2 linked regions of the Homo sapiens genome follow. The protein of the gene in region 1 interacts with the protein of each later gene in a biochemical or structural test. Each region holds a gene or a part of one and is shown on either strand. Other genes may lie near its edges.

Evidence for each region.
Region 2: the proteins of RXRA (region 1) and TAF1B form a complex in vitro, tested with the Homo sapiens proteins (one study listed by BioGRID).

Annotation. Positions count from the first base shown.
Region 1 is NC_000009.12:134,434,455-134,437,769, reverse strand, and holds part of RXRA (retinoic acid receptor RXR-alpha), read right to left. Parts: intron 1,304-3,315; coding exon 1,156-1,303; 3' UTR 1-1,155. UniProt on the Homo sapiens protein: Receptor for retinoic acid that acts as a transcription factor.
Region 2 is NC_000002.12:9,912,974-9,916,473, forward strand, and holds part of TAF1B (TATA box-binding protein-associated factor RNA polymerase I subunit B), read left to right. Parts: intron 1-185; coding exon 186-276; intron 277-3,500. UniProt on the Homo sapiens protein: Component of RNA polymerase I core factor complex that acts as a GTF2B/TFIIB-like factor and plays a key role in multiple steps during transcription initiation such as pre-initiation complex (PIC) assembly and postpolymerase recruitment events in polymerase I (Pol I) transcription.

The DNA of each region.
Region 1 (3,315 bases):
GTCTTTTAGACACAACTGGCAGCCAGAGAGAAGGCCTGAGCAGGGGTCCCACCAATGCCCCGGCAGAGCCACTCCAGGCCGCGGAGCATCTGCCCCACCCACGAGGCTCCCAGTTCCTGAGCCCCTCTCTCTCCAGGCCACCTGCCCCCTCTGAGGGAAACCAACAGGCCACCCTCCTCCCCTCCCATCCCCGCGGGCCTCACAGATGGCTGCAGGTCCGCAGAGCCCTGTGCCTCCAGCAAGGCCAGTGAGGTGGTGATGCCCCACCCTGCCCGAGCCAGGGCCAGCCCTGCAGGAAACAAGGACAAGCCTCAGCCCACCCCGCAGAGCAAGGAGAAGACTCAGGCTGGGGAGGGGCCGGGGCACTCTGGTCTGAACGGGGAGTCGGGAGTCTGAAACCAGAACACCAAGGCAGAGAGAAAACAGGGGGGTGAGTGACCCGCCCCTGCAGCCTGGAGGTGGCCCCGAAACCTTGCACAGAGGGCAGCTCATGTTCTCATTGGCTCGAGGGCAAAACTGTGAGTTATCTTTGGAAAAAGGGGCTACCTTCCCCCTCACTCAGAGCACAGGGCAGCTTGCTTGCCCCACGAGTCCCCTCTCATCCCCGAGGCGGCTGAGGTCTTTGCTGATGACACACCAGCTTGCGCCCCCAGCTGTCCCCTCCTGATTAGGGGGAAGCTGTCACGGGCTGGCTGGGCACCAGTATTCAGAGCAGATGAAGATGTCACTCCAGACAGGAGGGCCACACAGGAATTCTGAAAACCAGCATCGATAAACAGCAACGGAAACAAAAGCCCCGTTCCCAACTCCTGCAGCTCCAGGGCTGGGGCCCGAAGACCCTGTAGTCGCCCAAGCCCCGTGGGGTGTGGCAGGGTGTCCTGAGAGCCCGGTGGGGAGGCGCCTGGCTGGGCTCACGCTAGTTCTTGCCACGAAGGCTGCTGCCTCAGGAAAGCCACTGCCCTGGGCCACAGACAAGTAGTAACAGAAATAAGGAGGGTGACAACACATCTCTTAGGCAGAGCAGTGACAGGCTGTGCCCCAAAGTCCAAACAGGCCAGGCAGAGAAGGGCAGGGACAGGGCTCAGGCTGAGAAGAACAGCTGGCGTCCAGGCAGGGTGGCCAGAACGGGTGGGCACAAAGGATGGGCCCGCAGGCCTAAGTCATTTGGTGCGGCGCCTCCAGCATCTCCATAAGGAAGGTGTCAATGGGTGTGTCCCCGATGAGCTTGAAGAAGAAGAGATGTTCCAGGCATTTGAGCCCGATGGAGCGCAGAGCCGGCAGGCGGAGCAAGAGCTTAGCGAACCTGCAGGGAACAGGTCTGGTGAGGGCCGGGCAAGGGGCATGGGCAGTTCTGCCCTGGCACTGGAGGCCTCCCTGGGGATGGGGCTGTGTCTGATACCCCAACCCCTCTGAGGCTGGTCTGTAGCCCTGAATCTGCCTATGCCAAGCCTCCAGAAGGAAGGAGGGGAGGCTAGAAGGAAACAGAGGCAGTGGCAACCCAGAGCCAGGACAGAGTGAAGGGAGATCCCTGGGTCTGAGGACGGAGATGAAGGGCCAGGGGCCAGACAGCAGCTGGCTAGGGCAGACTGAATAGCTCTTTGTGAAGAAGTTAAAAATTGCAGGCAGTTGGGCATGATGGCTCACACTTGTAATCTCAGCACTTTGAGAGGCCGAGGTGGGAGGATGGCTTGAGGCCAGGAGTTCGAGACCAGCCTGGGCAACGCAGTGAGACCCTGTCTCTACAAAAGAAAAAGAGAAAAACAGTAGCAAGGCGTGGTGGTGCATGCCTGCAGGGAGGACCGCTTGAGCCCAGGAGGTTGAGGCTGCAATGAGCTACGATCGCAGCACTGCACTCCAGCCTGGGCGACACAGCCAGACTGTCTCTCAAAAAATGAAAAACTGTGGGCCATGACAGCCGGGAGCGGGTGTGAGTATCAGTAATGCATCTGGCTGCAGCAGCCATCACAGCAAGAGACTGCGGGGCTTGTAAGGGAAAGGGCTGCTGAGCACACTGGTGAGTCGCAGGGAACAGGCCCGGCACATGGTGGGCAACCAAGAAGTCAAAGAGCATCAGGCGGGGGAGGGGGAGTCAGGCTGCACCCCCACTGCAGGTGGAGCCAGGCCTGACTTGGGAGCTGTGTAACGGTGCAAGACCCTTTCCATAAAGCATCAGCACCCCATGAGTGCCTCCCACGGCACCTTGTGCAGGGCTGTGGGCCCCAGACCAGGGCCACCCCTTCCTCAGAAATAGCTCTGCTGGCATTGGGCACAGCATGGTCAGAGAAGGCTGGCCGGGGAGGGAGGGAGCACGGGTTGGTCCTCAGGGCCTGGCCCATCCCTGGGGAGTTTCCTGGGGCAGGGACCAGTGGGGGGGCGGGAGGGAGGGGGGAAGTCTGGGGCTCTGGGAAGAGGGATAGCAGGGCCAGGCATGAGGGCAGCAGCTGCCGCTGAGGACAGGGTGCTATGGGGACGGAACCAGGTGTCCCTTCCGGCTGGCCGTGTCTGCCCAGGGCCCCTGTGCACGGCCTGAGTCTCTCCACACGGCCCCTCCAGGGGCTGCAGGACCTCATTAATTATTAACGAAGTCTTTCTTTCAGGGAAAAGCTCTGTGGTTGGCTGCCTCACAGGCCTTGTTTTAAAGGCAAAAACAGCGCAGAGGCTGGAGTTGGGCCAGAGAACAAGCTGTTTTCTGCTGAGCTGGCGAGATGGGCCAGGGCAGAAAGCCAGGAAAAACAAGCTGCCTGCCACCCCCTCCTGTCCTCGTCCTCCGGGAAGTTTCACTTTAAACCAAGCCAGATGAGGGCTGGGCAGGCAGCGGGGACACGGTTAACTGTGTATGTGCTGGTGGCGGGAAGGCCTGGGTGTCCTATGAGGTCTGCTGGGCCCCACCTCCCCCGACCCCCTCCCCGCCCCACAGTCTGAGGATCAAGAGGCCAGGAGATGCCCCTTTAGAGAGAAGAGGCAGAATCTGGAGCGCTGACTTTGAATCCCAGGCAGGGATCCACAAACGTTTCTCTTCCTGGACACCTACTGTGCACCCAGCACTGTGGACTCAGAAATGAGGGAGCCCCAGCCCTTCCAGGGCCCACAGCCGGGCAGGGGGGAAACATGAGCGCTACGCTCAGGCCGTGACCGCCTATTCCGTACACACTTGTAGAGAGTGTTTAGTATGTGTGGGCATCTGGCCATCCATTCTACACATGCTTGTGAAGTACCTACTATGTGCTGGTGTCGCCTGGCCTCTGGTGGTTCTGCTTGGTAGGGGAGCGCAGTGGGGGGTGAAGCACAGCCTTCATCTATCTACTGAACAAAGAG
Region 2 (3,500 bases), on another chromosome or scaffold:
AAGAGTGAGGAGTGAGTTTTTATACTTTACTGCATTCAGTTCTGTTGTCTCTCTAATGTCTACATCTTGATCACACACTCACACCAACTGCCCAGTGCAGTCAATTAATGAAAACTCAGATGAACAATGTATATTATTATAGTGTGGTTTATTTGGTTAATAATCTTGGATTTTATTTCTTTCAGATAAGCCATGGTTTGATTTCAGAAAGTGGTACCAAATTATGAAGAAAGCTTTTGATGAGAAAAAACAAAAATGGGAAGAAGCAAGGGCCAAGTATGTTCTCCTTCCTGGTTTAGATGCACCTGCCTTACTTCTGTGTCTGTTACTTTACATTTGAAAGCTGAAGCTTCATCAGTATACACTTATCTACATTGTGACTTTTTTTTCTGGAAATATTAGCCCTACACTCTAATTAACTTTTCTCTTTTTTACATTACTATTAATCAAAGTTTAGATTTGATGTGGATTTCACCAGTGTTTTTATTAATGTCCTCTTTCTGTTCCATGATCCAATGCAGGATACCACAGTATACTTTTTATAATTTAACTTTTTATAATTTGCATGAGACTTGCCTATATTTCTAATACTCCTCCCTCTTCCCCTTTCTCAAATTTAGTCATTTCTCATCTATGCTTCCCAATATTAAAAAGATTACAAATGTTACCTTGCAACATATGTAATTGGAATGTTCCCCCAAAATAAAGATCCCTGTGAAAATTAAAACAAAGGAAAGCAGATAGCAAGTCCATTTGATTCAGCCAGTGTCACTGCCTTTCTTTGAACTGTCATTCTGATGTGGGCTCATTGTGGTAGGGTAGAAGAGAGCATAAGCAGCGCTAGGTTTGAATCCTGTCTGCATTACAAGCTAGCTGTGTGCCCATGGGCCAGTTACTTAACCTTTTGCTGAGTCTGAGTCTCTTTGAGGCTTTGAAGAAAAAGGTAACATCTCTGTATTTAATGTAAATTTACAGTAATACTAATTCGACTCAGTAATTTTATATCCTTTGAGAAAAATCAAGGTTCCCCATATTAGTTGAAATGAGAATTTGTTCAGCTCCTATTTCTTCATCAGTAAAATAGACATAATAATGCCCACTTATATACTGTAATTAAGACCCAATTTTCCAGTATGAGAGTAGAACTAGATTATTTTTCCTCTAAATTTCAGAGGGCTTTTAAATAGAAAAACAGACTCTTGGGGTAGAAAAGGCACTGTGGAGATGATCCTTTCCATAGCAGGGAAGTGTGACAGGTTCCCTCTCAGTAGGCAGGATTGATGCACAATGAAGAAGAGGGGTGGAGGTGAATTTATCCCAACAGCCCATGGATTCCCAGGAAACCAGGCTCCCTGCCTCCTCATCAGAGAAGGAGTGACTCTTCAGTCAGTGGCTCTCAGTGGGCACAAGAATAGCAGCAGGAACAAGATTTTGTTATGTGTCTTAGGTCATTTTGGAGAATCAGCCTTCCTTTCTGTGGTGCTAGCTGGGGTTAGTCCTGACGGATCCTAAGGACTGGGTGCCTAGGGGCCATTCCTCCCTGGGGTCTCAGTGGTGACAGGGCTTTCCTTACCCCAAGCCAGACACCAACCTACACTTTAAACATAGCTCTTGGAGGCCCAGTTCATTATTGCAGTGTTATGTCAGTTGCACATTTAAGACTTACCGGCTTTTAGCTACTTTAGGGAATAATTTATTGGCCAAAGAAAGTAAGTCTGGTTATAAAATGGCACTTTCCAGGGAGGTACCGGGCCCCAAGGTGGAGGCTGTCGAGGGGACCCGTTTCCAAGGTCCTTCTTCCTAGAGTATGTGCTGAGGGCTGACACACACGTGCAGTGTGAGTCACTGCTGAGTAATATGCGAAGCACTACCAACTGCTGCTCAGGCCCAGAGCTCAGTGCGTGGTGGCCACCTGTCGGTTTCACCCTTCCCCACCCCCATGTTGACATACATGTCTAATTTTTCTCTTTGTTTCTCTGAATATTATCATCCATGTTGTCAGATGAAAATTATTAAAACATTTTCTATATCTGAGCATGGGTTCCTATGCATGAGATTATGAAAAACACTAATAAACAATAGTTGAAAACCTAAAACAGCGTAAGAGGCTACTTTGATGACTTCTAGCTGTTATAGAAGATGTTGAGAAGAACATGGAGAAAAATTAAGCCTGTGCAGAAAATCTCTATGCCCTAATTGGTGTATAGTGATATCTCATTATGGTTTTAATTTGAGTTCACTGCTAATTTTTGCCTTCCCTTTTGGGTTAGGCAGAAATTTCTTAGATGTGACACCAAAAGCATGATCTATAAAAGAAAAAAAATTGGTAAATTGGACTTCATCAGAAGTAAGAACCTCTGCTCCACAAAAGAACTTAAACGAATAAGAAGCTACAGACGAGGAGAAATTAAATGCAAATCACATATCCGTTTAAAGATTTGTATCTAGAGTATATAAAGAATTTTTAGGCAATAAGAAAAAAACTCCATTTTTTTAAATGGGCAAAATATTTGAAAAGACGTTTTACCAAAGATGATATCAAGATGGCATGTGAAAAGATGTTTAACATCATTAATAGGGAAATGCAAATTAAAACGACAATGACATATCATTATATACCAATTAGAATGGTTCAAAACAAAACAAAAACAAAAACTGATCATTCCCAGTGTGGGAATTCAAAATGGTACCGCTATTTTGAAAAGTTGTCAGTTTCTCAAAGTTAAACATACATTTATTATGTTATCCAGTGTTTTTCACTCCTAGATATTTACCCTAATGAAATGAAAACAAGCTCACACAAAAATCTGCATAGGAATGTTTCTAATGGTTTCATTCATAATTGCCAAAAACTGGCAACAAACCACATGTTCTTCAACTGGTGACTAGCTAAACTGTTGTATCCGTACAGTGGAATACCATTTAGCAGTACAGACTTCTTATGCATCCAGCAATATGAGTGAATCTTAAATGCATTATGCTATGTGAAAGACTCAAAAGGTTACTTATGCTATGATTCCATTTATATGACATTCTGGAAAAGGCTAAACTATGGGGACAGAAAAACAGACCAGTAGTTGCCTGAGATCAAGGGTTGACTGTCAAGGGATGTGGGAGATATTTTGGAGTGATGGAACTGTTCTACGTAGTAATTGTGGTGAGTACACACATGCAACTGTATGTGTTTGTCAGTGCTAGCAGAACTACACTGAAAAGAGTAAATTTTACTGAATGTAAATTATACCTTAATTTTTAAAAATGAGGAAACATATGCAGACAGACAAGAGAGAAATATATAGATAACATGTAACTGGAAAACATGGTTTGTGATGTGTCTCCTTTTGTAGTTTTATGTAATGAGAAAAGGCAGGCAAGGTAAAGTCAATTTTGGAAGAAGCTTTCATTTCAGGTATCTGAACACTTAAGAGTATTTTTATTTTAGATCACCTTTCCCATTCTTGGGGCATATCACCCCAAGGGCATCATAATGCTTTCTTGAT